Linked DNA regions of Homo sapiens: region 2 is linked to region 1. The links come from fine-mapping of genetic effects on gene expression. A gene starts in region 1. The other region holds a variant in brackets. All regions are shown on one strand. Distances are between the middles of the regions. Region 1 holds the start of LINC02587 (long intergenic non-protein coding RNA 2587). Region 2 overlaps LOC105375167 (a long non-coding RNA gene).

What was found. PIP is the estimated chance that this variant, and not a neighbour inherited with it, causes the effect.
Region 2: its variant is fine-mapped to the expression of LINC02587 in prefrontal cortex (CommonMind, PIP 0.95).

The regions. Positions count from the first base shown.
Region 1 is chr7:15,681,342-15,697,109 of GRCh38, reverse strand. LINC02587 (long intergenic non-protein coding RNA 2587) reads right to left here and starts at 8,732. Exons shown (of 2, transcript NR_110094.1): 1 at 8,658-8,732; 2 at 218-2,240. MEOX2 (mesenchyme homeobox 2) reads left to right here and starts at 10,427. Exons shown (of 3, transcript NM_005924.5): 1 at 10,427-11,224. The coding sequence starts at 10,708. LOC105375166 (a long non-coding RNA gene) reads right to left here. Exons shown (of 4, transcript NR_134258.1): 4 at 15,130-15,768. RefSeq lists an enhancer at 11,231-12,063.
Region 2 is chr7:15,730,466-15,746,233 of GRCh38, reverse strand. LOC105375167 (a long non-coding RNA gene) reads left to right here. Exons shown (of 3, transcript XR_927058.2): 3 at 9,465-11,060. Among named protein-coding and RNA genes, the nearest start is that of LINC02587, 50 kb to the right of the region's middle. The variant G/A (reference allele first, on the strand shown) is at 9,470.

The DNA of each region.
Region 1 (15,768 bases):
AGAGTCTTTGTTTTACTATTACTTTGAAGGAAGTGGAAAAGCCAAGTGAAATATGTACAACCTAAATGTATAATCATTTAATTAAAAATGTTGATAACTAAAGTTACATTTATCATTAGCATATTATTTATTTGATCAACAAGTGTTACCTGTGGAGGGTGTCCATGTTCCTGGCATTTTGAACAAAGAGTTGGACAAAAAGCACAAACAAAACCACGAAGGAAGAGCACAGATTTATTGAAACAAAAGTACATCCCACAGAGTGGCAGCAAGATTGAGCAACCTGCTGGAGACCACCGGTTACAGAATTTTCTGGGGTTTAAATACCCTCTAGAGGTTTCCCATTGGTTACTCGGTTTACGCCCTATGTAAATGAAGTAGTGATCCGTGACCAGTCTGGCTGGTCGTGGGAGGGGACCAGTCATAGGTACTTTTCATTTTTCATCTGCCAGGCAGAAAAGGGGCAGGTTGCAAAGGGAGTATAACCTCTGATTCTTTTGTTACTTGGGCGAGGAAAGTTGAGATTTTCCTTTAGATTTAGTTATAGGAAGTCAGTGTGAATTGGCTTTAGGCAGTGTGAACTGCCTCTGGAACTTATTCTCCTGCCTCACAAGCATTTATGAAATCTGGCCCTAGACAAGATGTCTCAAGATATTAGAGTGTTATTTGGGAGAAAAGGTGGAATGAATGGTTAGATATAAGTAAATACTTCAAAATTTTCTTACAAAGCTTGTTTTCGACAGAGTGTGGCTTCCTTTTAGTCAGAACACGGACCTGAAAATTGATGATAATGATGACAATAATAAAAATTAACATAAAGATAGTATCTATCATTTATAAATACACTGTACATCAATTTACTTGCTAGTTGAGTAACATAAATTATATAATTTAATTGTCAACATGAAGCTATAGAAATAAACATCTTTATTTTAGAGATGAGGAAACCTAGACACAAAATATTAATTAACCTGGGCCACAATCAAAGTGTTGAAAACTGACAAAAACAAGACACAAATCAAAGTATCCTTTTCAGAGACAATGCTATAAATCGCTATAAAATAGATCGTATTGGCTGCAAAAATATATAATGTCTCACTGGGAATAAGTCTGATTTACAGAGACTGGCATCACAACTGGTGTCACAATATGACTGCAGACACTGTGGGCAAATCCCCAAAGAATTTGAAACACTGTTATTGCATATGGACACAACTGTTGTTCTAATTCCAGTGAAAACTAGAAATGAACCTCTGCTCAAGGGCAGAAAACAAAGCAAAAATTATGAAATAAAAAGAAGCTAGCAAACAAAACAAAACAAAAACCTGAAGCTGGGATGAGCATACAATTAGTTAAATTTTCTTTGCAGTTGTAGAAGCAGTTACATTTTCCTGATGTGGCCCAATAGCTACGTAGGTACTAAAATCTTTTGATAAAGTGAAACTCTTAGATCTAAATGCGCTATTAAGTATATGTATTGAGCTCTTGTTTTGTGCCGGACACTATGATAGAAAACATCAGCATAAGATGCCATCAAGCAACAGGAAGTACAGAGTTTAGTGGTGTGAAGTAGGCCTAGTAGGAGTACATTTGAAGTTTGTCAAGACCTGTTGTAACAGAAACATTTACTGCTCACCAAATAGCCATCTGCTTCAGAATATTTTCTGGTCCTCTCTCAGGTATGCATGGCTTTGTTCTGGTCCATGAGCTGTGAGCAGAAATGGCACCTACCACCTCTGCCTCAAAGTATGTAACACCAGGCATGTGACCCTCCACCTCTTTTTCCCCCTGCTGTGGGATCTTGGAGACACATGCTGAGATGACTGATTCACAACGCCAACTGCTGCCTGGAGAGCCAACCATCTTGTGCCACGATATGCAGGAAATTTTTCCAAGGCAATAAGATGTAGAGGTAAACTTGTGACAGCATTGTCTAGTTCATCCTGAAAAACACACCTGGCTCTTCTTTATTCAAAAAGGACATTGCCAACCAAGCTGTTTTAAGTGTATCAACAGTTAATTAACAGTGATGCTCCTGATACACAAAGGAATAACAGACGTCTTCACATAGGGGGTTTTGCTGTTTCAGGAATTTCCTGTGTTTCCTTGAGATCTTGTTCTGGAGGTTTCCAGGTGTGGTACCACATTGTGAAGCTCCTAATCATGGGGTCAAAAGGATCAACTTACAGAGAGACTTTAGGTCCTACATCATTTTGACAGATATATATGTAATTTGGTACCTATTTGCAAGGGGAGGGAATAAAAGAAAGAAAAAGTTAAATGACACCCTCTAGCTTAGCACTGTCCAATGTAAACCACATAGGTCATTTTAAGTTTTCTAGCATCTGCATTAAAAAAGTAAAAAAGAAAGAAAGTTAATTTTAATAGTATATTTTATTTAGCCCAATGTATACAACCACGGTTATTTTAACATGTAGTCAATGAAAACCTTCATTAATTTCACAAGAAGTCTTTGAGATCTGGTATACATTTTAATCTTAAAATGAATCTCAATTTGGAAAAGCCACATTTCAAGTGCTCAACAACCACACGAATCTGCATTCCACAGTGAGGTCTAGATGTAACTTAAATTTGTTAAACATTTGTGGAGCTTATGCCAGTCATGATGGTAAGTATGTTCACAGCATTGTCGAAATTGTTTATTGTAATATTCTCTTGAGTTAACAAATGAATATATCCACAGAATTAGAAACTGACAGAGCTAAGATCCAAATCAATTCTCCACCCTGGCTCTGAAGATGGAGGAATGCTCTAGGGAACTACAGGATCATGGGACCCCTCTATAATTTAAACAAGATGAGTGAGGCCCCCAAATAAGGTACTGACTGGTGGTGGAGAGGATTATGGAGTTAATGAACATTAAATAAGTATAATTGGGAATACTTCACTTGATGATTGATTGCATGGGGGAAAAGGAGAAGGAAGGAGGGGCTTGGCAATTGTGGGTTCCTAATTCTGACTTAAGCAACTGACTTGTCAATAAGGCTGTTTAGAGAGAGACTGACATGGGACTTGCTCACTGAAAATTGAGATTTAGCAATGTTTGATCACTGGAATTGCTAGTACAGTACAAGGAAAATAACCCACTTTTTTTGGTTCTAGCCATTGCTATATTTGACACAAATGCCAGATTACAGTGATCTAACAATTGCTTCTTAAGAAAAATATTGTTCACATAACAGAACTAGACATAGATTAGCAAGCCTTTAATACTGCTACAGAAAGAGAAATAGCTAATTCAATAACCTTAGATTTACAGTGCATAATATTTACAAGCTTCTATGTGATTCTTTATATCTTTCTTCTCTAAAAATACACACTTCTCTAAAAATAGGCTTTATCACCACATGTGCAACAGTGAACATTTTTGCAGTTTTAAAACTTATGTGCTTGTCTTTGGTTCTGGAAGGATTCCAAGTGGTGCTACCTGGGCCTGAGACCTTTGCCTGGTGGAGTCTATCTGATGAAGGTATGATCAGATCTTAAAACCCAAAATGACTCAGCTTTCAACTTTGATCAAATCGCATCATTAACTGTAAGAGGTAGGATATCAGAGGTAACCAAGAACAAAATGTGTAGAAATTCAAACATTTCACAAGCTATTGACAGGTACTACTGGCCCACAGATGATAATTATGATGAATAAAGTAATTAACATGGAAGGTCATAAATGTGCTATTTTTATTGCTCTATAGTTACTATAGCAAAGGAATGTTCTTAAAATTGTTTGCAATAAATAGAGGTATTATTATATTTGATTATGGGTCAAGTCTATTTAATTTGACCTTGAGTATATCTTCAGAGAAACATTACCATCACTTTAACCAGCACACTTAATCATCTTTAATAAGTTATTTGCAGAAATGCTGCTTCAGATTACTACAGATGTCCTAAATTAGAGGAAAAACCTGTCAGTTTTCTTTTACTCATAAAGTCCATTTTCAACATCAGTTGTCAGTTTGATTCTATTTTATCATGAAGTATTACAAGATTATTTTGACCTTTTCAGTCACTGTGCTCTTTTTCTACCCATTAGTTTTTTTATACCCTCAAGAATGAATTGTTAGAAGTGGAATTGGACCAACGTAGAGTCCCGCAACTTTGAGCTTATAGGACAAAGGTCATGCAAAATGCGTGTCCGGTGGGGAAAAAAGAATCTTTTCTAGTCACTCTAAGGGTTGAAGAGGTTGCATCTAGTATTTATACAATCTTATATAATATAGAGACAGCTTTGTTTTGATCACAGGCCCTTTTGTGGATGAAAACAACTGTTAGCTGGTGGTATGAGAAATTGCCTTGTCTTGGGCCTTAGAGCTCAGAGCTGGTATTCCTCCTGGGTTCTGGTTGGTGTTTGGTACAGAATTTCCTTACTTGTGCTTTGAAGTGCTTTACAGTGCAGTTGGCCCAGGACTTCTTTTTTTTCCTCAGACACTAACAGCTGTTGAAAACCAGCTTATTCCCTTCCCATATACTATGACCCCAACTTAGCAGAAATCATCCTCTAAAAATAGATGAAATTTAGAAAAACCTTTTGCTTACAATGAGTTTCAGGTAACAAATTTGTAAGACGAAAAGGTAGTGATTATTCAGAACTTCAGATATTCAATAGCCTACACATGTCTAAGCATTGATCACATCTATATCCACATTTCACATTAATTATTTGAAACTGTTTCTCAGAATAGTAATATTTCATTATTACTTCTATCAACAGTATATATGCCGTGCAGTTAAATATGAACCTTTCTGATTACTTATTTTTAAAATTCCAATTAAACCGAGATATGAACCTGGAATCTTTTTACCATGATCATATGTGGCTTACAATTTATGTATTAACAAATTTAAAATTATTTTTAATATCTTTAAGCTTGTCTCACTTTCTGTCTTTTCACCTGCTAAATACTCTTCTGATTTTTTTTTTTTTTTTGGCCCATTCTGACCTTCTGTTACCTTTCTTGTTTCTTATGTTAATTAAGACATGGGCAGACAGTTGTCATTTAATCATTTCATCCTTGTTTTGATCCATTTCCATAAAGCCATTGCCTTGTATGAAATACTCCATATCACTCTCAAAATCTTCCAAAAAAAAAAAAAACCTGTGCTCCATCAAAGTACTATTATAATGTTAAACTCTTAAAAATATGCTTTTATAAGAGATCTTGTATTTGGCCTTAACTTTTCATTTTGTTTGGTATACAAATATACAACATTTTTCCTTTATTCCTAAAAAAAAAAGTTGACATAAAAGGCAGCTGGTATTTCTTTGTTGAGTCTGAATCATATAAAATATGAGTGTGCAATTAAATATTTTGGAGAACTATACTAACAGCTAAAACACAGAGGTTTTTAGTAATCCAAATCATAAACCTGAGCTCAAAATGGAAAAGCCACTTTAAGAATAAAACTTGCTACAAATTGATGAAGTATGAAAAATAAAAACACACAAGAAAAACTTATCATAGTGCCAAAGTTACATTGGTTATGTTGAACTCTTCAAGTTGGAAAACTTAAAACAGAAGACTAAGGTTTTACTTATAATTCCTGTCTGTATTTTCGATTCAATTTTTCTTCTCTGAGGTTTGTGAACTTTTCTAAATTCAATTCATATAAAAGGATAGCCTTGCTTTTTAAGACATGGGAGAAATAAACGGTGTAGTTCCCTTAAATTGTGGATAGAAATGTAATGGTTATGAGTTGGATGCTATAGAAAATATAACATAATATAGAGCATTTCATTATAGAATTCTCTTGAATTAGTTTGCCTGTACCTCTCCCTGTTATGGAAAGGATATAATTTTCAATGACAAAATTTTGAAAAGGCCTACATTTATCAATAAAAATAACATACAACGTGAATGCAAATGAAAATGTAGAAATTAATTATTGTCTATTAGCATTATTATGAGTTAACTATCAAATAATTATGGATTTAAAACAGGTGAACAAAAGGAAGTCCAGATGGAAGTGTTTGAAATTTGAGAGGCAATCTATGTCTTCCCAATCATAAGACGCCTCACAAAATAAAAAAAGAAAAAGAAAGACAAGAGATCATTAGAATTTTATTAAGTGTGAATACATATTATGAAAGAATGCATATATTTTGAATTTTTAATTCAATCTTTTAGATTTAATTTTATTAGTCATAATCTATATTGCATGCTGGCTTTCTAAAGATCATCCGTTAAATAGTTCTAATTTTGATATATTTTGTTTCCTCTCTTATTGCTTTAGGCAGAGTTATATTTAGCGTTGAGAACAATTTCATTGATTATACTATACCGGAATTGAATGGAAGAAAAACACTAATTCCTGAAAGAAATAAATTTAAATGCAGGAAGACCTAGAAACTAGAAAAACAAAGTACGTTGGATTGTTTTACAGTTTAGAAGTAAGGTTTTAAGTATTCATTTCTTTTGGTACATGTAAAATGAATGTAACAATTTTTACTGTGAATGTACCAATTAATGTTATATAAAAATAATAACATTTTAAAAATGTGTAAAAGTATACAGAATCACTAAATAACATGCATTAGCCATAGCAAAATTGTTCCATAAACTTTATAATGCATAGTTCCTGGGGAGAATCAGTTCCTTAGTTTTATAAAATAATGTACATCATAAATCACATAAATTACCATTGGGTATTTAGCATATTTGGATACATTTTCAAAATTCTTTATTTCAGAAGAACCAACTGAAGGACATAACTGCTACTTTTTGGCAAAATATAGCAGAAATAATATTTCTATACCCAATAAAGTTTTCAGAAACAAATTACAACATTAATTTAATTATCCACCCTTTAGTTCATATATTATGAGTATATGTTACCAAGGAAAATTTATCTATTAGGTAAAATTCAAAGTAGAGTTTCCTATTTAATTTTAAATATTTGAAGTTCCATGACAACTCATGTCACACGTGTGCAGAAGAATGGCAACTTTTAAAAGAATCGTTGTGAATCTTAAAGTAAAATTTAAATACAATTTTGTTGTATTGCTTAATATGAGCTCTAGTCCCCTTAAAATAAAATAGTCCTAATAAAAAGAAATCTCTGCCTTTACTCTTGAATGTCATTTTATTTAAGCCGAGGAAACAATAGATATACACACTTATCAAGTTTAAAGAACCTAGCCTACGTTTAAAATAATTATAGCTGTGGACCCTGCAAGAGCTAAGTAGCTTACCTTTTCACAGAATCAACCTCTTTATAATGTGTTACTTGATATTGAAACCTTACATGAAATGTTGGCATTAATATAACTTATCTTCAGGAAAACTCAAGTATATTATAAATGTAGGATAAATACTATATCATACATAGTTGTAAATGATTGTTATATAGAAATTTTATAATAAATTTTATAATTTTTACCATTCTTCTTGATATCATTAGGTAAAAAGGCATCTTTTCAATATTGGATTTTATGGATGTGAACACTGAAGTAGCTATTATAGGAAATGCTAGGGATTTTTTTCCCGTTGTTACTACATTTTAAAAATTTCTCTATAACCTAGAACATAAAATTCAATATTCTATCTTATTCCAAATATTCTAATAAAATTTAAAAATCTTTATGTAATGATTAATACATATTTAGAAATCCAGAGAAAATTAAAGTTATATTTAATTCTGGAATTCACCAAGACGTCCTTTTTAGTCCTTCATTTTTTCCTTCCAAATATTTTCCTTATATTCTGTTTTCTATAAGAAAACTGGACATCATAATTTTTGCTGATATTAAATGTTCTGTGTCTTCAATTAAAAAGACCTTTCTTGCTAGCTTTGTTTTCATTGCATGCCTTTGGAATGACTTCCTCCTTTTCTAACCTTTCTTAAATTTTTCTTCCCAGGTTTCTGGCCCCACAGTTCTAGAGGCTGACTGACTGGGGCAGGTTGTAGAGAAACTTCTGGACAGGTTGTTAACATCTGACACAGTGAGTGAGAAAAAATCCAGCACAGTCACTGGGCAGGTTTAAGAAGAAGTGGCAGCCTCGGGAGATGAAAGGTTTGTGTGTGCTTGTTGCTGGTTACCTGCAACACACTGGTTAAATTCAAATCCATTCATTTAGTAATTGCTTAGCTTCCTCTAAACCAATGTAATGCAAACCAAAAGGACCGTTGTGGATGTTTTGTACTGATGTCTGCAGATCATGAGTAATTTTAGTCTGTCTTGTCTGACATTTTCCACAATGCTTTTAGTTGACAGCATTATATTATGTAAATATTTCTGGTTAGGTTTATTGAGGTGGTTGCCTAAATCTCACTTTAAATAAAGCCTTTAATGCTTTCACCCAGAATCCATAGAGAAGCTACATGAGTTGGGGAAGTTTAGTGTTGCTCTTTGTACTTTAACTTTTAATATCAGAGCACATATTGAAACCATAAACACAATGAAAATACAAAAAAATATTCCGACGATATTGGAGGACTATAACTCCCCCACCTCTTTTTATTCTTAAAGAGCCAAGGGCGTGGGGAGTGGCAGGAAGAGATATTCTCAAGATCTAAGTCCTGGACGCCATCCTGCGAGTGCTTAAAGCCCCTAGAAACGTGCAACCTGAACAACACCCCTTTTCGAAGTCTAAAACAATATTAGATTCCCAAAATATCGGCAAAGAAAGTCTTACCGTCAGACTTGCAGCAGGTTTCAGCTCAGACCCAGACTGAAAAGCTGAGCAGCTGGTGAACAAAAGATTTAGTTTTTTTTTTTTTTTAAACGAAGTCTGCAAAACTAATTTCCCTCAAAATAGAGCTCAATTTCCGTTAAAGAAAGCAGCGCTTACAAATCTCAGAATTCCTGATCAACCCCCACTCCACCCCACCTCTGAGCAATAGAAAACAATTCGATCTTTCACACGGATGTTATTGCGAAGCCACTATTCTGCAGTGTGACTTAAAAGAAAAGAAGATAGTGAGGCTTAAGCAAGGGGACTGGAAGAGGAGGGGAAAGGTTCTGCTTTGGGGACACCTCTCAAAGATTAATCAATGCTTTTTCCTAATTCAAACCAGATGTCTAGCCCAGTTTGCTGTACCCATTAATCCCACTAACAACTTCAAAGACCTGGTCATCATCCTCTGGACACCTGAGACAATGAAAAAACGGGGCGACACTGCTGGTGGCGCATTTGGGGCCCCGGGCAGAATAGGTGACTACAGATATTCTCCTGATGCGACAGGTCGCAGATGGGACATGACTGTTCCTCCTGCTCATTACAGCGCCACTCACTTGTGTGTAAACGACTCTGCCCCCAGCGGACCCTGTCGCCCGCCAAGCAAGTAGCAGCTTCAAAGCCCTGCCCTCGCTCTCGCATGCTTACTAGAGGCGAGTTTTCTATTTTATTTTCAGGGGTGCAAAATTGTAACCAAGTGCCCACGGTGAGTGAATTTTGGGAGCTATCGAAATGTAAGAATTCTCAGTAAATGGAACCCTGGTGGTAAGGAATGCATTAGCGGATTTATTTTTGAGCAGAAGAGAGTGGATTTCTGGAGGAAACCGAGGAGATCTGGGCTAGCTCCTGAGGGGAAAGGCTAGAAATGCGCGTGCAATCTACACATCTCATATGACCGGGACACAATCGCTTGGAAATATTCTTGACCCAGGAAAAGTTCTTCTTGGTGGACAAGTGGCTAGGAAATTGAGCGGGACCGGGAAAGAGGGGGAAGGGAGCCTCCACCTGGCATCGCACGTGAGGATGCCAGGGAGCAGGCATCTGCAACCCTTTCAGACTCACGCCTTCCTCCCACCCACCCAACCAGGTCCGTCTTCTTTCTGCACTGAGAACCGCCTTTTCCAGGCCATGGTGCTCATCCCCGCAACCTCAGATCTGGCGTCCCAGCCTATTAACAACCCACCGACAGAAACCAGCTGCGAAAACCTAGGCGCGCTGCGGCGCCCGGGGCACGGGAAGATGCAAAGTTTGAAAAACTTCGAGGGTGCGCCAAACTAGCTCTGGTCTTTTCCTTTAACCCTATTACTTCTTTCGTGTTCCTGAAAGGATAGGCGTATCCCTAGCTTTTCTGCAGGTGACAGTTCCCAAATGACACTGACAAGTCACGTTTCCCCGAGAGGAAAGTGAGTAGGTAGGAATCAGGGTGCTAGGTTGGGGGTGGTGTGCGCCGCGCCCAGGCCTCCAGAGTCTGGAGGGCAGAGCTGCTGCCCTCCCGGGCGGGACTTAGACGTTGGCGTGCCGCTTGTAGTCCTGGCAGCCGGCAGTGCTGGGCGGGCGTGGACGCTCTACGTCCGTCCAGCAGGAGATAGGAAGTGGAACTGGGAGCGCGTGGCGCAGGCTGAGCGGGAGTTTTGGAGGGAGTTTGCATGTGGTCAACTCTGGGCTCCTAAGCCAGCCCCCAGCTCACGTTACACTCTATTTATAACTTCTCAGAGCCATTTCCCCCTGAAAGCAGTTCTCTGGGACCACCTTCTTTTGGCTTCAACCTCTCCCACTCTTGACATCTGAGTAGCTCAGGGAAGCTCTTCCAGGTCCGACTGTTCATATGTAAAGGAGACTGGCCGCTGGGGCTCAGGACCGGGATTATCCGAGCTCTGCAGAAGTGCACCGCTATTGCTTTGGGAGGTTAAAAAAAAAATCACACGGTTTCCAGTGAAAAAGTGACAGAGGGTGGTGGCCTTTGGAACCGCCGTGAAGTCTTCTGCCTGGAACCCGAAACTTGCATGCTATGGAACACCCGCTCTTTGGCTGCCTGCGCAGCCCTCACGCCACGGCGCAAGGCTTGCACCCGTTCTCCCAATCCTCTCTCGCCCTCCATGGAAGATCTGACCATATGTCTTACCCCGAGCTCTCTACTTCTTCCTCATCTTGCATAATCGCGGGATACCCCAACGAAGAGGGCATGTTTGCCAGCCAGCATCACAGGGGGCACCACCACCACCACCACCACCACCACCATCACCACCATCAGCAGCAGCAGCACCAGGCTCTGCAAACCAACTGGCACCTCCCGCAGATGTCTTCCCCACCGAGTGCGGCTCGGCACAGCCTCTGCCTCCAGCCCGACTCTGGAGGGCCCCCAGAGTTGGGGAGCAGCCCGCCCGTCCTGTGCTCCAACTCTTCCAGCTTGGGCTCCAGCACCCCGACTGGGGCCGCGTGCGCGCCGGGGGACTACGGCCGCCAGGCACTGTCACCTGCGGAGGCGGAGAAGCGAAGCGGCGGCAAGAGGAAAAGCGACAGCTCAGGTAAGGGCGCGCCAGGCACCCTCGAGAGTGCGCGCCGGGCTGGAAAAGGGGCGGAGAGATACTAGGGGAGATTCTCGCACTGGAGGGTGGCAGCAGGGAAGATGGGAATGTGTTGCCCTCTGTGGCTTCCTGCGGCCAAATTCGGCGGTGAAGCTTTGGTCCTGATATTTGGGGACACGTGTTTATTCGAGAGCAATGCGTATACAGCCAGCAGCTCTAAGCCCTCCAAAGTCCTAAACTAGTTTACCAGAAGGTTGATAAAAAAGGACAAGTGGCTGTGAAATCGATTGTGAAGCGTGACCTTCCATCCCAGCGCTGGGGAGGGAGGGGCGTGCGCCCAGGGATGCAGCGTCCGTTGGGCAGGCGTGCGTGCGGGTGCCGCTTCTTGACTTTTCTCTTGCAAGTTGCCGACTCTGAGTGGCTCGATTTTTCCCATCGTTAACTGGATTTCCAAATTATTGCACAATGTTTGGAACTTGCAATGGAACTTGGCAGAGCGCATGAGAAAAAAAAGTTTCAGTTTTTTTTTTTTAACATTCTTATTTCAGCGTTCTTTAAATAGCACCCTATTTCAAATGGTAAAATTTTCCCTTTATTGGGGAAGAAGACATTATCTAGGAATTCAGATTTTAAGGAATGTGTCAGAGAATTGTAAATAAATAGATGCTCACACTGGAAGAAAGACGAACCTTAATAGTACATGTCCATGTGGTGTAAGCTAATTACAGAACCTAAGTTTCAAAAGTGGAAAATAAATCCCTCTACCAAGTGGGTATTAGTAGAGACAAATACTGCGAAGCAACAGCAACTCGGGTACTGTTAGTTAGATACGTGTCTAAAGGGGTATGCAAGGGTGCGCGCAGGAGGCGCTGATTTCAGTGGGGATAATTTGAGCAGCCATGCAAAAGGGGAACCTTCCTGACCTCTGGTGCTTGAAGGCACAACGTGCCGAATAAATTGTAGCAATCCAGAGAAACTCAAAGTTTCCAGACAAGTTTTCAAAGCTCTTACCTACCTGTATTTTTATAAAATTGTTAAAAGATACTTTAAAATTAAGAGACTTGTGAGTTTTCTTTCGTGGGTATAGTGCAACCTGGATTAAATACTTTTGGAAGGTGTCATTTGTTTAATATAATATTTGCATATTTTTCTTCCTCTGTGGAATTGGGTTAATAATAGTCCTAGAAGGTAATCCCATATGTTGGTTTGAAGGATTGGAAAAATGTTGATCGTGTGTAAAGCTTTAGGTAAGATGCCACATAAATGAAAATGATTGGCCGCATATTTAATATTCCTTCACCATTCACAGCAATATCAATTGTTCTTCAGCGTTACTATAGGATGGATTCTTCTCTCACGGTCTCAAAAGCTAACTTTTATTTTCCAAGGTCAGGGGGTGAACTTTTAATGTTCCATCACAAATTAGTTTTTATAAGAAAATTACCAGTAGTGTCACTGATATTTAATGTATTTTCCTAACTATAAGTGAAACTCTCTTTAGATAGTGAGTTGAAAGGTTAATCATAGCAAAAAGGTTTCAATTTTTATTAGAAAAACAGTCGATTTTAGAATGCAGTGACAATTTCATAAACTGAACATTTGATATCAGTGTAACTTTGGAAGCAGATCCCAGTTCGGGTTGATGAGCGTACTCTTGCAATTCCCATAAGCTCTTACGGTTCATTTTATTTCTTGCAATGAGAAACCTACATGATAGATTGTTCTTCATGCTTCCTGAACTGAGCCATTGCCCTTAAGTTTCTCAGGGCAAACAATTTTCATACAAGCACATGTTATTTTGTTTGGGGAAAACTGAGAAAACGGAATTCAATAACTGATTCCCTTAATTTATTTTAATAATTTTTTTAAAAAATGGAATAATTTAACAAAACTAATTTATCTCTCCCCCCCAACTTAGTGGGAAATAACCATTTAACAAAATTAAATTCATTTCTACATTTTGAAGCTGATAATGAGGGTACTGGAAAAACAAGCAAATATAAGTGTTTGTGTCAGCTACATAAATTATTAACAGATTAAAACTTCAGTGGAAAGTACAATTAGTCATCACCAAGGATAAAAATACTGGGGATTTAGAATGAGCTTTTCTTTCCTTTGATATGTTGAAGAAATATTGACTAAAAGGAAAATCACAATAGTTTCTGTTTAAATCTATGTACACTTATTGAAAATAAAATTTTATTTGCCAATTTCAGCTGAAGGTATATTTGTCAGATATTGAGATAGATTTAAATTAAAGATATCTTTCTCGTGTAACAATTGCATTAGGTGTTCCATAAATTATCTTCAAAGATATTTTATTTCATAGACATCTTGATCTAGCACAAACTAAAACAATATTGAAAATGATTATGATCCTGGTATGCTATTAATACGTATATCTCTCATTGCTTATAGCACATTTTAGTATTTCAATATTTCTAAAATATAAAATTGAAGTGATTTCGGAACTCCTGAAATTTAAAATTGTATTAGATAAAAATGTCATCCTATATAGTGAGATCATTTGTATTTTGTTAGGTAGTTTATAATTACTTTGCATTTATGGTTGAGAGAAAATTCAGTACATAAATCCAGGGTAAAGTCAGGACCAAAATTCTGTATCCCTGCATCTAATACTTAGACTGTATGTGTATGTGCTAATTCTAATTACCGTGTTAAATTCTAATAGAATTTTAAGCACCAGAAAGTATTGAAAAACAGCTTAAATATTTATAAACCTTACAATTTTATTCATAGTAACGATTTAAAACTATAATACGTAAGCTTCTCTAGCATATATTTTATGCACTTTCCCTCCACAAATGCACATGGACACACACATATGCAAACTCTAGCAGCTTCATGTTTTGGAAGCAAATATTTATGGACTTTAGGCTTCCTTTATGTAAGTTTATTGACAATTGAAAATAACCAAATTTAATAGAAAAACACACCATTATATTTTATATGTGTTAAACATTTTTGTAACTTTGAACCTGCTACGCTTTCCAGCATTATTAGCAAAGCCAACATCTGCCACGTCTTCAAAGGGACTCTTAAAAATCAAAACTTTACAACTGCTGAAAAAAATCACTACAAAGCAGGTGATTCTGAAAAATGTCTATAAATAGTGTGAATTGCTTGGCTTCAATTACATTTGGTTGCTCTTTGAGCAATCTAGTAGTAGGAATAAACTGCCCAGTTTTAGTTAAAATAACTAAAATTAATTCATTGATCGAACTTTAGCTTTTGTGCATGGTTATACAGTGTACATATCTAGATATTTTCTATTCAAATTTATGATACATATTTTATAAAAAATAGAAATTACATCAAAAAAGAAAAGAGCGATTTGGGGAGGTAGACTTTACTAGGTTTTGAATCATATTAGATTCTTGTAAAATTACAAATATTTTATTTATAGCTACTATGTCATAAAACCTTTGCTGTCAAATTATGTCTGTCTATATGCTTGACTATGCAGAATGACTAGCAAATATTACATTTAATAAGTTGGAACTTAAACTCAGAGTAATACCTTATCAACCTCATTCAGTATGATATTGTAATATTTCCAAGATATTTCAATCATTGTGTTTTCTGAAAGGAATAAATTAGTGTTATTATTCATTTCTGTGTTACTGGATTGTGGCTTTTCAGCATTTGCTTTAGAATTTAAAAAATAATATACTGGATCTTGAAGATTAAAGTGAAGTATTGAACAAATCAAATGGAGTACAAAAAAAAACTTCCATTCTTTATCTTGGACTGGTAGACTAATTTTAGGTGTGAACATTTAAAAATGGTAATCTGACATAAAAAATTCTAAGTATCATTGACCTACATGAGGGCTCTAAAATGTGATCTAAAATAATCACACTCAAGTTAAAAGCAACAATTCCTTTAGAATTAAAATGCTTTATTGTTGAACATTAGCAATGAATGGAAGGAAGAATGCAAATAAAAGTAGGAATAGTTTCCAATTCTGTGTAAATTTCTTCATTTATAGTTCATTTTAAAAGAAAAATCATAAATGCAAGGCATGGTATTGCACAAACTTTCACCGGGCTTAGAAATCCAGAACTTAGTATTTAAAGTTTTAATCTTTGTTTATGGTAATTATCAATAGAAACCTTTACAATGACATCTTATAAGCTGATCTTTACTAATAAACTGAAAAAACAGTACTTCAGTCATTACCCCATTCTCCCTCTGTGTTTCAAAACATAGACCGTTCATTATAACTCTGGAATTTAAGTTGTAATATTTATAATAAAATCTAAACATCCTAAGAACTTAATTTTAAGCAAAAATGAAATATCAGAAAATGTCAATCCTTTCTCTTAGATTCTGAGAAATTTGGGAGGTGAATTCCATATGTAATGAAATAATTACATTTTTTTTTGCACTTAAGAAATGTAAATCTATAGATGAATTAATAGCTGAATTATGTAAAACATCACCATATATAAGCCCACTACATGTACTTAGCCTGATAATGCTGCCTTGCTTGCGAAATTTTATTCATTTAGTGTTTTTAT
Region 2 (15,768 bases), 49 kb before region 1:
TTTGATATCTAAACATTTAAATTTTTTTCCTTTTTTTTTTTTTTTTCTGAGATGGAGTCTCACTCTGTCGCCCAGGCTGGAGTGCAATGGCCTGATCTCAGCTCACAGCAACCACCGCCTCCCGGGCTCAAGCGATTCTCCTGCTTCAGACTCCCAAGTAGCTGGGACTACAGGCATGTGTCACCACGCCCGACTAATTTTTTGTATTTTTAGTAGAGATGGGGTTTCACCCTGTTAGCCAGGATGGTCTCAATCTCCTGACCTTGTGATCCACCCACCTCGGCCTCCCAAAGTGCTGGGATTACAGGTGTGAGCCACCACGCCTGGCCAAATTTTTTTCTTTAGATATTTATTTTGACAGAAGCTAGCCAATTGTCCAACTATCACAGATTAAATAATACTTCTCTTTTCCAGATGTTCATTATTACTCTTTGTCAGCTATGAGCATTTTTTAAGTTTATATTTTTATTAACAATGATACTCTTATACTTTTTAAAAACACATACATTTTAAGGGAGAAAAAAATAGCCCACTGAAACACAATTCAAATATTACTTATATATTTTATTATTTATCTCTATATCTATGTAAGTTTTTAAAAGTAAGTTTAACCTGGACCTGTAGTCCCAGCACTTTGGGAGGCTGAGCCAGGCAGATCGCTTGCGGTCAGGAGTTCAAGACCAGCCTGGCCAACATGATGAAACCCCGTCTGTACTAAAAATACAAAATTAGCTGGGTGTGGTGGTAGGTGCCTGTAGTCCCAGCTACTCAGGAAGCTGAGGCAGGAGAACTGCTTGAACCTAGGAGGCGGAAGTTGCAGTGAGCTGATACTGCACCGTTGCACTCCAGCCTGGGTGACATAGTGAGATTCCATAAGAAAAAAAGTTTAACCTAGGTATAATTTTTACATGATCATATTGACAAATAAGGGCAGAGATATCTACTGATGACACGAAAAATTCTTCAGTTGGGTATGGAAAATGCAATGATAATGATGATGATGATGATGATAATGATAGTATCGGTAAGGACAGCAAGCACTTATATAGTGTCTACAGTGTGCCAAGGTCTGTTCTATGTAACATACATGCGTTAATTCATTTAATTTTCATATCAAATCTATGAAATAGAAACTATTATGATCCATGCTTTACACAGAAAGAAATTGAGCCACAGAGGAGTTAAATAACTTCCCCATGGTCACTCAGCTAGAAAATAGTGAAGCTGGGCTTGTAAATTTTTTTGCTGTTAAATCCCTATTGCTGTCCTTGCTTTACATGATTTATTTAAGGCATAGAGGGGTTAAAAGAGTTGTTCAACCAACAACTGGTAAAACCATGACTTGGATTTACTCAGATTCTAGAGGAGACAAAGAGTAACTACTGGGGACAGAATATCCACATGCCCCTAATTTTAAGATAGATAATTTGGGAAAGACAGTTTGAGGATAAAGAGATTCCTATTATCCAGATTACTTAGGGCTTACACTACATTCCATATATCCATTCCCTGCCTACTAGCCTGGAGAAGAGAACGGCAGACAGTTCAAATGTACCCAGACAGAAGGATATTGCTTGATTAACAGGAGTTTGAATTCTAAGATGAGCTACTAAAACATCTCACCTAGCAGCCATCTGCTTTTGGCAACATTCTGGCTGCAAGGGCAGAACCACTCCAAGGTACGAAAGGATGCTGGAAAAAAGGCATTACTGATACACTTATCAAACACCTATTTGACCATCTTTTTCCTTCTGGATGAACTAGCAGTCTGGGATGACTGATATGATACTCAAGAGTCAAGACACATTGATGGCTCTTAGGTCATGACAACTCTGGGCATGCCAGCATAATGTACGCGTGGAGTATGTCACACATATTGGCCAATTCAGACACATAGACCTTCTTAGATTACCATAGGATGACCACCGCAGGCAGAACACCCATTCTACCCCCTCTCCCTCTTCAGATTCCAGAAAGGCTCTGTTTTTTTCTGCCCAGGCAGCACACAAAGCAGGAAGGGGGTCAGCTGTGATCTCTCCAAATTGTAATGGACCATCTTCTTTTTTGTCTTCTTTTATCTGCATGAAACATTTATGTTCATTTTCCCAAAGTTTATCTGGCCATGGTTTTCATGTGATCACTCCAGCCAGTGATTACATGTCTGTTAATTTTAAAATGTTTACACTGACAGGTGACAGTTAGGTAGTGACAGTTTATAAAAATTTTATGTGTTTCTAAGCATTTGTTTACTTTAACTATTGAATGTAAACTTGGAATTTCTTCAACATGTAATGTTAAACATATGCCATGGATTTTGAACTCAATATAATGCATAAAAGTATTTATGAAAATCATATGCAACTCAGAGTGTCAAAGGAATATACTTTGGCAAAATCTGCTTTTGCCTTCTGTAATAATGTATTTAATCAGAGAAAATTATACATTACTTTTATGAAAGTTTGGTTATTAGGCTTATTTAGTGGTGACTAGAGTACAAATTTGTAAATTATATCATAATATATAGGACTTACTAAATTATACTTTGTTAATAGTACCTCCTAGAATGGTACTATATGAGCTAATTTTTTACAGTAGACATCAGTCATTTATTTTTAACCAGTCATGATAATATTTTATTAGACTTCAGAATCTGGTAGCAAACCCTGCTGTAGGACTTGTGAATAATAACAGAGAAAAGCAAATTGTTTCCTTTGGCCCATGAGCTAGATCACACTATAAAAGGATAGAATGATTCTGCACATCAAAGTAGGTTCAATGATGTGCCCATTCCTTCCACCATACTTGCCCCCATGAAGATTACTGATAGGTCTCCAGTGAATTACATTTCATCCTATTGTTTACATAGGAGAGTCCAATAAAACATAGTTTGAGTCTTCATTTATAATTCATATCATGTGACATATTCGAGTCAGTTTTTTAGAAAGAATTAAGGCAATATTTTCCTCTATCTTTTGTAAGATAGAACACTAAGTAAATTTTCTCAAAAAATCTTCTATTTTCTTTAATAAATTATTTTAGGATATTTGTTTTTCCAAATCTTCCAAGAAATGTTATCTCTCTTGTGTCAGAGAATTGTTGATGAACCTTGTGCTGAGGTTTTGTGTGTAAATGGATTTCCTCATCCATGAATGAAGAGCTTCCTATCCCAGAACTCTGAAGTTCCCCTTGAGAGGGCATGTGGGTCTTGACAGTGTCCATCTATCTTGTTCTGCAAACACATTCAATAGAAGTGCTTCAACGGGGTCACATATCTAACAAGCACTCAGCCCATGAGGCCATGCTATTCAGTGGTAGAATTTCTCTGACTGCTCTGTTCAAAGACCAATGTACTCTGCAGTTTTCCATTGTAAATTGTAATATGCTTAAGATACTGTAAGATGCTCTGCTTCTACAGTGCTCCTTTTCCTATTTGACCTATAACTTTTTACGGTTATTATCAATTTTAGGACACATTAGAGGACACTTGTCTCCTCTGCTCTTAGAATTTTTTGTGTCCTAGAGTAAAATTTTCTAAGTGAATATAAAAAGAGAGGAGCTGGCACTTAGCACCTGTAGTGGAAGCCATTGATGTCTTCCATTGACTGCACCCATGGTGCACTCATCTCCGAGCTGTAGCAGTCAATGTTGGCTGCCAACAACTCTCAGAAGCCTCCTTCCTGGATAATTGCTCTGGCCCAAGGTTTCTCACACTCTAGCATGTATCTGAATTACCTGGAGGCTGACTAAAACACAGATGTTTGGGTCGCAGATGACAAAATTGAGCATTTTACTATCTCTCCCTGACACTTGTAATTGGTAGAAAATAACTCCAGTCAGCTCAACTGGGGACTTGAATAGGAAGGAGATGTAATATGGACCTGTGGTGCCAGAGAGAGAGAGAGAGAAAGGGAGAGGGACAGCAATAAGCACAAATACACCTAGATTCATAATAACTTTTTAGCTCCTGGTTTTAGCACCTCCTTAGACCCAGCAGTACTCGCTACTTGTAAATTCTGTGAGATGGATTGATTCCCACCAGTAAACTCCTTCTTCCACTTCAGCTGACTAAAACTTTTTTCTCACTGCTACCAAATGATCCCTAGCCAACACAATCCTCTGCATCTTACACAGTGTTCAGTGAGACACAGATAGACAAGTTTAAAGGATGAATAAATGGATATACAGTTGTAGGTGTCTGCTTTTGTTATTCCTTTAAGATAAAGGAGAAATGACAAATGGAATTTCAATATTAAGGATGAAGATTGTTAAAAAAAACTGACAGAAAAATTTAAACATCATGGCAATCTGAGTTCATTTAAAGCAAGGTTTCTCAAATTGTGTCCCCAGAAGAGCAGTATCTTTCAAGAAATTGATTCATTTTATCTGGTTTATTTGTGGGCAAAGAGTTATGTATAATATTTATTTATTATCCTTTTAATATCCAAAGGATCAGTAGTGATGACCCCTCTTTCATTCCTGATATTAGTCATTTGTGTCTTCTCTCTTTTCTTTTGGGGGCAGGGGTATTAACCTGGGTAGAAGTCTATAAATTTTACTTATCTTTAAAAAAAAACAGCTCTTGGATTCATTGATTTTATGTATTGATCTCGTGTTTTCAAGATCACTGATTTCTGCTCTAGTTTTTGTAATTTTGTATCTTCTTCTTACTTTGGATTTAATTTGCTCTTCTTTTTCTAGTTTCCTAATGTGGAAGCTTAGATTTTTTGAGTTCAGGTTTTTTTTTTCTAATATACACATTCAATACTATAAGTTTCCTTTGAAATGCTGCTTTCACTGTATCCTACAAATTTTGATTTTTTTCTCCATTTTAATTTAGTTCAAATATATCTAATTTCTCCTGATACTTCTTATTTGACTGGTCTGTTATTTAATACTCTGTTTTATAATCTCCAAATATTTGGGGAATTTCCAACTATCATTCTGTTGTTTTAGTTTAATTTTATTGTGAACTGAGAGCTTATTTTGTGTGATTGTTATTCCTTCTATTTTACAGTGCATTACGTGGCCCAGAAAAAAATTAGTGTTTGCCCTAGAGTTTGCAATATACATTTACAAGTAATCTAAGTTCATTTTCAAGTAACACTGTGCTGCTTCATGTGTAGTACAGGTACCTTATTACAAAGCATTCTCAATTACTCCCTCCCATGCCTTGTAATATTTCTGTTACTGATTTCACTTACTCATAAGCTATAATCACCAAATATATTGCTGCTATTAGAATTTTAAACAAATCCATTTATCAATTAAGAATGGTAAAAATAAATAATTTTATTTTACCTTTGTTTAATTCCTTTTCTGATGCGATTCCTTCATTTGTATAGTTAGAGTTTCTGACCTAAATAATTTAATATTTCTTGCAAGGCAGGTCTACCGGCAACAAATTCCTTCAATTTTTGTCTGAGAAAGTCTTTATTTTTCTTTCACTTTTTAATGATAATTTTATTCTTTATAGAATTCTTGGTTGGTGCTTTTCTTCTTTCAATACGAAATATTTTACTCCACTTTCTTTTAACTGGCATGATTTCTATAGAAAAATCTGATATAATTCCTATCCTTGTTCATCTATAGTTAAGATGTTTTGGGTTTCCCCATCCTTGGCTTCTATCAAGATATTCCCTTTATCTCTGATTTTCTGCAGTGTGGCTATTATATACCTAGGTATGTATTTTTTGTGTTTATCTTATTTGGTGTTCTCTGAGATTCCTAGTGTTGTGTTTTGGCGTCTGTCATTAATTTTGGAAAATTCTTAGCCATTAAGTACTTCAAATGTTTTTTTCTATTCCTTTCTCTCTTCTTGCAGTATTCCAGTTACATGTTTGTTACACATTTTGTAACTGTCCAACAGTCTTAGATATTTTGTTTATTTTTTCATTTTTTTCTCCTTGCTTTTCAGTTTGGGAAGTTTCTATTGATATGTCTCCAGGTCTCTGATTCTTTCCTCAGCCTCCAGTCTGCCTATCAGGCCACTGAAAGAATTTTTTTTTTCTTTTTCTTGCAATATATAATTTTTTATTTTTAGCATATACTTTGTATTATTTCTTAGAATTTCTGTGTCTTCTCTGTTTATGGCATCCATCTTTTCTTATATGGGGTCTACTTTTTCAAGAGAGCACTTAGGATATTTAATAGTTATTTTCTATTTTCAGACTGAAAATTCCAATTTCTGCCACCTCTAAATCTAATTGTGATGCTGAATTTGTATGTTTAGATTATTATTTTTTACCTTTTAGCATGCCTTGTGATTTTGCTGTTGCTGTTCAAAGCCAGAAGTGACATATCAGGTACAAGGTGTTGAAATAAATAGGCCATTAGTATGAAGTTTTGTATTATCTGGCTGGGGTTAGGCTGTATCTACAGGTGTCAGAGGCTAAAATTTTCTTCTAGTATCTTTGTTATTGCACCTCCTTTTGTCTTTGGATTTCCTTTTAGACTCTTTCTTAAGTAGAGTCTGAGCTTTGCACTTATTTCAGCTGTAATCCCTTATTACTATTCAGTAGTCTAATTGGAAATGTGTGGGAGGAGGGGAAGTGTTCTACACTCCTGTGATTAATATTTTAGTGGGCTTCTGCCCTTGGTCCCTGACCTTCAAAGGTGCTTGTCAGCCTTGTTTTCCTCTTTAGGTGAGACAGGAAGGCTAGAGAAGGCTGGAACTGGGTATTTCCCTTCCCCAAGGTCCTTCAGTCTCTGGAAAAACCCAAATTGTTTAAGTTCTGATAAAATAGAGCAGGACTTTGTTAGGAAGAACAGAAGACTATGGGGATGTTTAAAAATGGTTGCTTTTCCTTTTCCTCTGCCAGAATCTTGATAGTATTTCCTGTGATCTTCACGCTGAGAACCTGGTGGGCCCCTGGAGGTAAACACTCCAGAACCTCCAGAACATATGACAGCTTCTTCAAGGCTGGCCCCAGGAGGTTTTACCCCTTGAGCCAGTCCATGTCAGTCTTCAACAGTTTGTCAATTCCCTGTAAGTGTTCCTACCAGATCATGTCTTCTGACTGCTTCTGTTCCTGCCAAATTGTGACTCTCTGTATTCCTCGTTTTCTTCAGGACTTTAATTCTCTGATGGAATTCAGTAGCATTGTTAACTTTCAATTTGTTCAGCTTTCTTTGGTTATGAGGATGGGATTGATGAGTTTAAAGTCTTTACATGTTGGACTGAAAGTCAAAATTTTTTTTTATTTGCAAAGTACCAATGATAAAAATTAAAATCACAACAATTTCATTAGTTTTTTCTTTAACACATAAAGGAAGGTTTGCTAAATCAATTTCCTAATACCTGTCCAGAGGTAAGATTTACAATGTTGAACCTGGGCGCTTTGCTCCAGAACACAGTTGTGGTTAAGGATCATTCCCCACTCTTGTGTTTTTCAGAACCCCCACCATTTTATGTTCCAGGAAATTGTTTACTGCAAAGAACCACCTTTCCCCATATGACTCAGATAAGATTTGATGTCCACTATTTATTGTGACTCTCCTAAGACTGACAGATGAGCTCCTTGTTTACCTATGACAAGGCCAGATACAAAAGCTCTAAATTCCCATTCTTTGGCTCACCAATGATTAGGTGAAATGTTTGTCCCGTGATATTAACTAGACACAGAAATAAACATTTCTTATTCAGCTGATTGAGACACTCCCTGATTATAGAAATAAGCCCAACTGGATGATTGTCCACCTGTAACTTGTTTATTCCTATTTATAAATGCCAAAGTAAAATCACCCTGCTGAGAAACTCTGATATTCAGATCTGGAGTGTTCTCCCTATTGTAATAGACTGAATAAAATCAGTTTACTTGTTTGAATTTTTGTCTTTGACACCCCCTTCTAACAAACTTATACATATTCTCCTTAGCTTTAAGAAAAAGTTTTAAAGGCTTTGTTATTTTAATGTGTTGTGAATTGTAATGAACTTTTCTACATTAAACTCTCACTAATAATTTCAAGACATAATAAGACATTTTGGCATTTAGTCATATTATCCCATGCCCCAAATAACCAATCATGCGTTATTAGTTGCAAGAAACAAGCTTTGATTTGAATGTCAATTTAGATAAATCTGTGATATTATAGGAAGGAATTATTTTTCAAAACATCGTTATTTTGATAGCTTTCACGGAAAAATACTAATAAGATTGCTTGCTAGTATTTTGACATTTATAGAATTATTCATAATCTTGTTTTGTTATTCAATATAAATCTTAACAGCATATTGGCACAGAGTCTGAAATAAATGCAAATAAACAAAAAATTAAATACCCAAACTAATCACACGTTCTTGCAAGTTGCTCATAAGTGATGCCTCTTGCAATTCTATGTTCTGAGAACTACAGATTTGATAGTCAAATTCAATTACATCACATCCTTGGCAGTATACATTCTTGTAACAGGATGTTCAAATGGAAACCTTTCTTTTTAGTTTTGGTGGAGACTTCAAATTCCAAGACGAAAACAATAGCAGGCAAGTGCTTCCACATTCCACACTGAGGTGATATACTACTGCCTATATATGACTAGCAAAGGAAACAGTGCAGAAACAAAAATGCAAACAGTTTCTTGAACTCTAGCTACATATCCTTTATAGCACAACATTTTTCAGGTTAAAGAGCTAAGAGGATTTTTTTTTATACAGTTGCTGAACTGCTATGGATTTTTTTTTTGTCTCTATTCAAAGAGGCAAAAAAGAATGGAGGGTGCCCTAGCCTTAACTGAAGTCAGCTATGGGATCTTTAATCTAATCACCTAGAGAGCTTGAGATATATACATATGTATATGTATCTGTATATCTGTATGTGGATATGAATGTATAGATATATGTATCTGTATATCTGTATCTGTATATGAATGTATATATAAGATATAAATGTATCTATATATACATTCATGTACATGTATATACATATATATACAATACATATGTCTCCTGGAGATATATATATATATATATATATATATACAGCTCCTGAAGTCAAAAAACAGAACATACAGGTTCCTGAGCAATCTCTGAGAGAAACAGGAAAAGAGAGCGGCAAAGCAGCCATCACAGACTTCCCTGCAATGTGTTTTTTGTGATACAGGGATTGTGCCAAGTGAGAAATAACGGGTCAGAGATTGATTTCAACTGTGATGAAGAGGACCATCTGCAGGTTTGATATGATCTCAACCAAAGGGATATATCTTCAGAAATCTAAGACTGAGTGGGAAGGGAAAAATAATACAATTTATTATCCAAGTCAGGGGAAGTGCAGTAGGACTTCGTGAAAGAGTCAGATGTAAACGTTTCCTAAAGCAGGATCACAACAGTAACAGACAAGTCATAATGTTTCTTCGCTCACTGCTCTTTTTTCTAATTCTTCTTATGCTATAGAGGATAGAAACCTGGGGACAAAAAGAAGCAATAGTTACAAAATAGAAATGATGGAGACACATTCCCTTTTTCATTGCAGGCTCC[G/A]TACCTGAAAAGGTACAACAAGGAGGGATGAAGAAAGATCACTGACCAGAAATAAAATTGGGAGTTTAGACAATTAAATTATCTGGACATTTTAATTCCTGAACTACGACTAGGCTACAACATGCGGACTGCTGTAGATGTCACCCAGGAACAGAAAATAACTAGCCTCGTGAGAAAGTTTTGAATGGGCAAAAGGGAAATTGAATACAATTGTTTTTTGCTTGCACCATATAGAGGCGTATTCTTTCTATGTACAGTGATAGGAAACTGGTGGTGTTTGACATCATCCAAAAACAGGGCCCATTTTTTGAATCATAAATTATCTTCATGAACACACCCATTGCCTTCAACATACAGCCTAAGTCTCATACTTTCTAAAATATCTCCGGTACCTGCTCCAGTTCTCAGTGATCACCAATTCCTTTGTCCTCCAATAACATAAATTTCTTTTCTACCTTGTACTTAGAATTCTGTTCAAACTATCTTGTTGTATTCAAAATAATTTTAACGAGCTATAGTTGACATAACATATTTAGTTATCTATCTATGTATCTGTCATCTATCAATCATCTGATGAGAATTTATCATTACACTCAAGATAATGAGCTCAGACATGATTCCCAAATATTTTCTCATCAGGCTTTGTAATTCTTCCCTCTCAACACTCCCCAGCATCCCCCAAACCCAATAAACCACTAATCTGCTTTCAGTCACTATAGATTCATTTATATTTTCTGAAATTTTATATACAATGGAATCATTCACTATGAACTCTTTTTCATCTGACGTCTTATATTCAGCATAATTATTTTCATATGTTTCCGTGTTGCAGAGTATAATTTCGTTACATAGATATTCTATCTTATTTATCAATTTACATTTTTGTAAAGATTGTGAAATAAAAATAAAATCCTAAGCCCTGCAACTGACTGAGCAGACACCTGTTGCCCAAGAAGACTCCAGAAAAACTTTGAAAAATTGAGTTTCCTGGTCATGACAAGGTGGGAGGTTGAGTACCTCTTGGTGTACCTCATTCCTTGCCAATCTTTACTAGATTATTTTCTAAGGGTTAAACAGAAACTGGCCCTGGAAAAATAAAGAAATGAAAACTCACTCCTTTGCTGATTTCAGCCAACTGCTGGACACTGCAGCTGGAATCCTCTCCCTTCTTGTAGTTTCTACACAGCAGCTCACCAGTTTCATAGCACATTCCTTTCTGATTTTTTACTACCAGCCATGGACTGGTTCTGGCCAGATACAGAGGCTGCCCACAAGATGTCTGTCATCTTTTAATGTATACAGCCTAATTTTAATACATTTAAATGTTAATTCTCCATCCTAAAGTGAACATGTGACATATGTAATATGTATGTTTGCTTACTAGCATATGTGTGTCCCTTGTGAATATTCATAACTCTTTTTATAACTTGTTGATATGTATACTTAGCCATCCTGTCCAGTATAAATTCCTGTCTCATCCTTCTTCCATTGAAGTACCTGCTTTTGATTTCTGCTGGAGGCTATGCTTCCCAGTCTGCAGGGTGGCCAGCCTGCAGGCGGAAACCCTTTATAAGAAACAAAGCTCTCCTCTCCAAATATATGGATCTCATGATTTCAAGTCTACAAGACTTAAGTTGTTTTCTTTTCTTTTTTTTTTTTTTTTTTTTTTTTGAGATGGAGTTTCACTCTTGTGGCCCAGGCTAAAGTGCAATGGCACGATCTCAGCTCACTGAAACCTCTGTCTCCTAGGTTCAAGCGATTCTCCTGCCTTGGCCTCCCAAGTAGTGGAAATTACAGGCACCTGCCACCATGCCTAGCTAATTTTTGAATTTTTAGTAGAGACGGAGTTTCGCCATGTTGGCCAGGCTGATCTCGAGCCCCTGACCTCAGGTGATTCACCTGCCTCAGCCTACCAAACTGCTGGGATTACAGGCATGAGCCAAGGCACCCAGACAGTTTTCAAACTACTGTTATAAATAAAGGTGCTGTAAACATTGGTGTACAATCTTTATCTGAACATCTGTTTTTATTTCTCATGAATAAATGCCTAGATGTTAAACGGCAGGATTATAAGGTAATTATATGTTAAACTTTCTAAGAAATTTCTGAACAGTTTTTTCAATTGCCTGTACAATTTTTACATTTCTACCAGTAGTGTATGAGAATTTCAGTTGTTTAACTCTCTTACCAATACTTGTTATCTAATTTAACTATTATCTGAATTATTGTTATTATCCAAATGAAATTTACTGATTCTAGTGAGTAGTAATATCTCACTGTAGTGTTAATTTGAATTTACTTACTCATGATGTTGCACATCTTTTCATATGCTGATTTGCCATAAATTGCTGGATTACAGCTAATAAAAATAAACAAAATGAAATCATAAAAATACTAAATTAGCCCTAAAGAAAAAAAAAAAGAAAGGAAAGAGGAAGAAGAAAAAAAAATGGGACAAATAGAAAACAATGGGTAAGGAGACAGTATTAATTAATAATATCAATAACCACATTACATATAAATAGTCTAAATACTCAAAAGGCAGATATTGCTAGATAAAGTAGCAAGAATTGCTTATCACTGCCTTAAAAAACCTAATTTGAGTATATAGATAGCAATGGGGTAGAAATAACTGAATGGGAAAATATATACTAATATTAATGAAAAAATGCTAAAATGACTACAGTAATTTTAGACAGAGTGGGTTTCAGAGATAAAAAATATTCAAAGGAGCCACTGAAAACTATTTAACTTCCATCTATAATGTTTATTTTTTCTAGTGTTGCTTTATGCTAAAAGAACATTTTAATTTATTGCACTTGACTTGTTAAATACCTTGATTCTTTGTAATTTTAGGAATAAAGTATAGTTAATTTAAAGAAGAACTTTCAATGTAGCCTTTATATCACATTATAACTTTCCTCAGAAGGGTAATAGAAGCACTGATTCATAGTAAGAATCTTCTTTTTAACTTTTAGAAAATGTATTAAAAGAGCTAACGAAGACCACTGCATAATGATATAGGAGGTCAACTGATAGAAAATAACAGTTCAAAATATGTGTATGCCAAGTAACACAGCTTCAAAATACAGAAAGAAAGCAATGATGGTACTGCAAGAAAAACAGAGAAATTCACACATGTAGGATAAGATTGCATTCTTCTTTAAAGAAGTCAACCAACTAGACTTCATTTATATTTATAAACAATCTATTCAACAACAACAAAGTACATATTCATTTTAAGTGCACACAGAACGTTTACCATAAAATGTTATATTCTGGGCCATAAAAAAGTTCTCTATATTTCTAGGAAGGTCTCAAATTATACAGAGCATGTTATCTGACCAACATAAAATTAAATTAACAACCAATAACTAATATATTAGAAAAATCTTCAAACATCCAGAAACTACAAGATAAACTTCTAAGTAAACTATGGATCAAAGAAGACATAAAAAAAAATTAGAAAGTTTTTTGAACTGAATAAAAACGAAAACATACCAAAAGTTTAGCTTGTAACTAAAACTGTACTTAAAGACAAATTTATAACACTAAATACCTATGTTTAAAAAAGAGAAAAGGTATCAAATCAGTGATTTAAACTTTCATGTTAAGAAACTAACACAATTTGAAAAATATCAATCCCAAATAGAGCAGAAGAAATGAAATACTAAATGTAAAGGTAAAAAGAGAAAACAGAGAAAAATCAATAAAAGTGAAAGCTGCTTCTTTGAGAAGACAAATACATTTCTAGCTAGATTGATTTAAAAAAATAAAAATGAAGGCACAAATTACCGAACTAGTAATGAGAGAGGTGACATCACTGGTAATTTTGCACACATTAGAAGGATAATAAGCAGATATAATACATTTTATGACAAATTTAACAATTTCAATTTCAATGAAAAAATTCCTTGAAAGACACAAACCAACAAAGCTCACTAAAAAATAAATATAACTCAAAAAGCCGTAACTCTTTTAAATAAATTGAGCTTATAGTTAAACTTTTCCATGAGGAAAAATTGTGGATCAGATAGCTTCATGGGGAAATTCCACCAAAGTGTCAAGGAAAGAATAATAATTCTGCACAAACTCTTAGAAAATTGAAGAGGACAGAATGTTTTTCAATCCTATAAGGCCATTATGATCCTGATACCAAAGCCAAATAAGAGAAAACTGGAGATGAAAATCCATCATGAACATCGACGCAAAAATTTCTACCAAGGTTTTACCAAATGTTTATGTCACACACACACACGCATCTCATGACATATATAATATGTCATATATATGTCATGTCTCATATATAATCTCATGACAAAATGGGGCTTTATTCTAGGAATGCCTGCCTGGTTTAAGATTTTCAATTCAACCAATGTGATTCTTTTTAATAACAGCTGAAAAAGGTAATCTGTATAGCTGGAGAAAAGTTATTTGATAAAACACACCATCCGTTTCTAATAAAAGCTCTGAAGAAACCAAGAATAGAAGTGAACTTCCTCAAACTGAGAAGGTGAGGAGATTGAGTTGTTTTACAACTAGACTGAAAAAGTTGTGTTTTGTTTTGTTTTGTTTTGTTTTTGTTGTTTGTTTTTTTTTTTTTAATCTCTGAGGATGCCTCATTTGTGACTCTTGGTCAGGATAAGAGTAATGGCATTTATGTTATGCTGTTTAAGGTCCAAAACTCTCCTAATGGCCTTCAAAATCAGTTTCTTTACTGATATTTGCAACTGGCCTAACCATTTTGTCCAGCATGGCTGGAGATACAGATTGTTACATATGTGGGACATGAATATGAATAGTGGTCCCGGGGAAACTTCTTGTGGAATGTCTCTTTGGTATCTGATGCTTGCCTCAATTCTCTTTCTCTTTCTGTATCTAATCCGTTGCCTTTTAATAATAATCTTACATGTGTGTGTTCCATAGAGTCTGATGACTCCTTAAATATCCCTAAATGGAATCTATGAAAAACTAACAACTCAAATCGTACTTAATGGTGAAGACGGAATACTATACCTGTAAATTCAGGAACAAAGCAAAGTGGTCAAAGTGGTACACTCTTTATTATTTCTATTCAACATTTTACTGGAGATTCCAGCCTGTGTAATCAGGTTGAAAAAGAAATAAAAGGCAATCACTTATGTAAAAAATTCTAAAAAATCTACAAAGAAACTATCAGAATTAGTAAATGAGTTTAGCAAGGTTTCAGGATACAAGATCAATTTACAAAATTAATTATATTTCTATTATACTAGCCATGAGCAATTAGAAAAATGAACTTATAAAATGATATTATTTATAATGGTATAAAAATATAAACTACTTATGGATAAATTTGACAAAGAGGTATAAGTTCTAGACACTGGAAACTACAAAAGATACCTAGCATAAATTAAAGATTGAATATGTGGAGAAATATGGTGCATTCAGAGTGTGATGACTCAGTATTGTTAAAACATCAATTCCCTGCAAATTCATTCAATGCGAGCCCAGTCAAAATCTCAGTAGACTTTGCTGTAGAAATTGTTTGTTTTAAAATTTATATGGAAATACAAAGAACTTAGAATAATGAAAACATCATTGAAAAAGAAAAATAATTTTGAAGGACTTTTCACTATCTGATTTGAAGACTTATTATACAAGTTTAGTAATCAAGAAAGTGAGTATTGCTGTAATCATAGGAAAACAGATCAATTGATTATAGACATTAAATATAAATTCATGCATTTATGGTCAATCAATTTTTGCCAAAGGTCCCCAAGAATTTCAACTGGGAAGGATAAGCATTTCAACATACGCTACTGGAAAAATTTTATAGCCATAGGCAAAAAAAGAAGCCTTATTTTATGTCATACGTAAAAATAACTCAAAATGGATCAAAAACCTAAAACTATAAAAGTTTTGGAAGACAAAAAGAAAATCTTAGTGACCTTGAGCTTGGCAAATATTTTTTAAACTATAACACAAAAAGCAAGAACAGACTCAGTACATTTGACATTATCAAAATTAAAATTGTTAGGTTTTCAAAAGGCACTGTTATAAAAACAAAAAGGCAAGCAAAAACCTGAGAAAAAAATATTTGCAGGACATGTATCTGAGAAATAACTTGTGTTTAGAATATATAAAGAATTCTTCTAACTCAATAATAAGAAAATAAACAACATAATTTAAAAATGGGCAAAAGATTTGAACAGACACTCTTATTTTGATTTTTAGCTTTTCATGTGGGTAAGCCCTGAATAACCTACATTTCTTTAAGCTATCAGCACCAATCACAGTTAATAAATATGTTTTGAAAA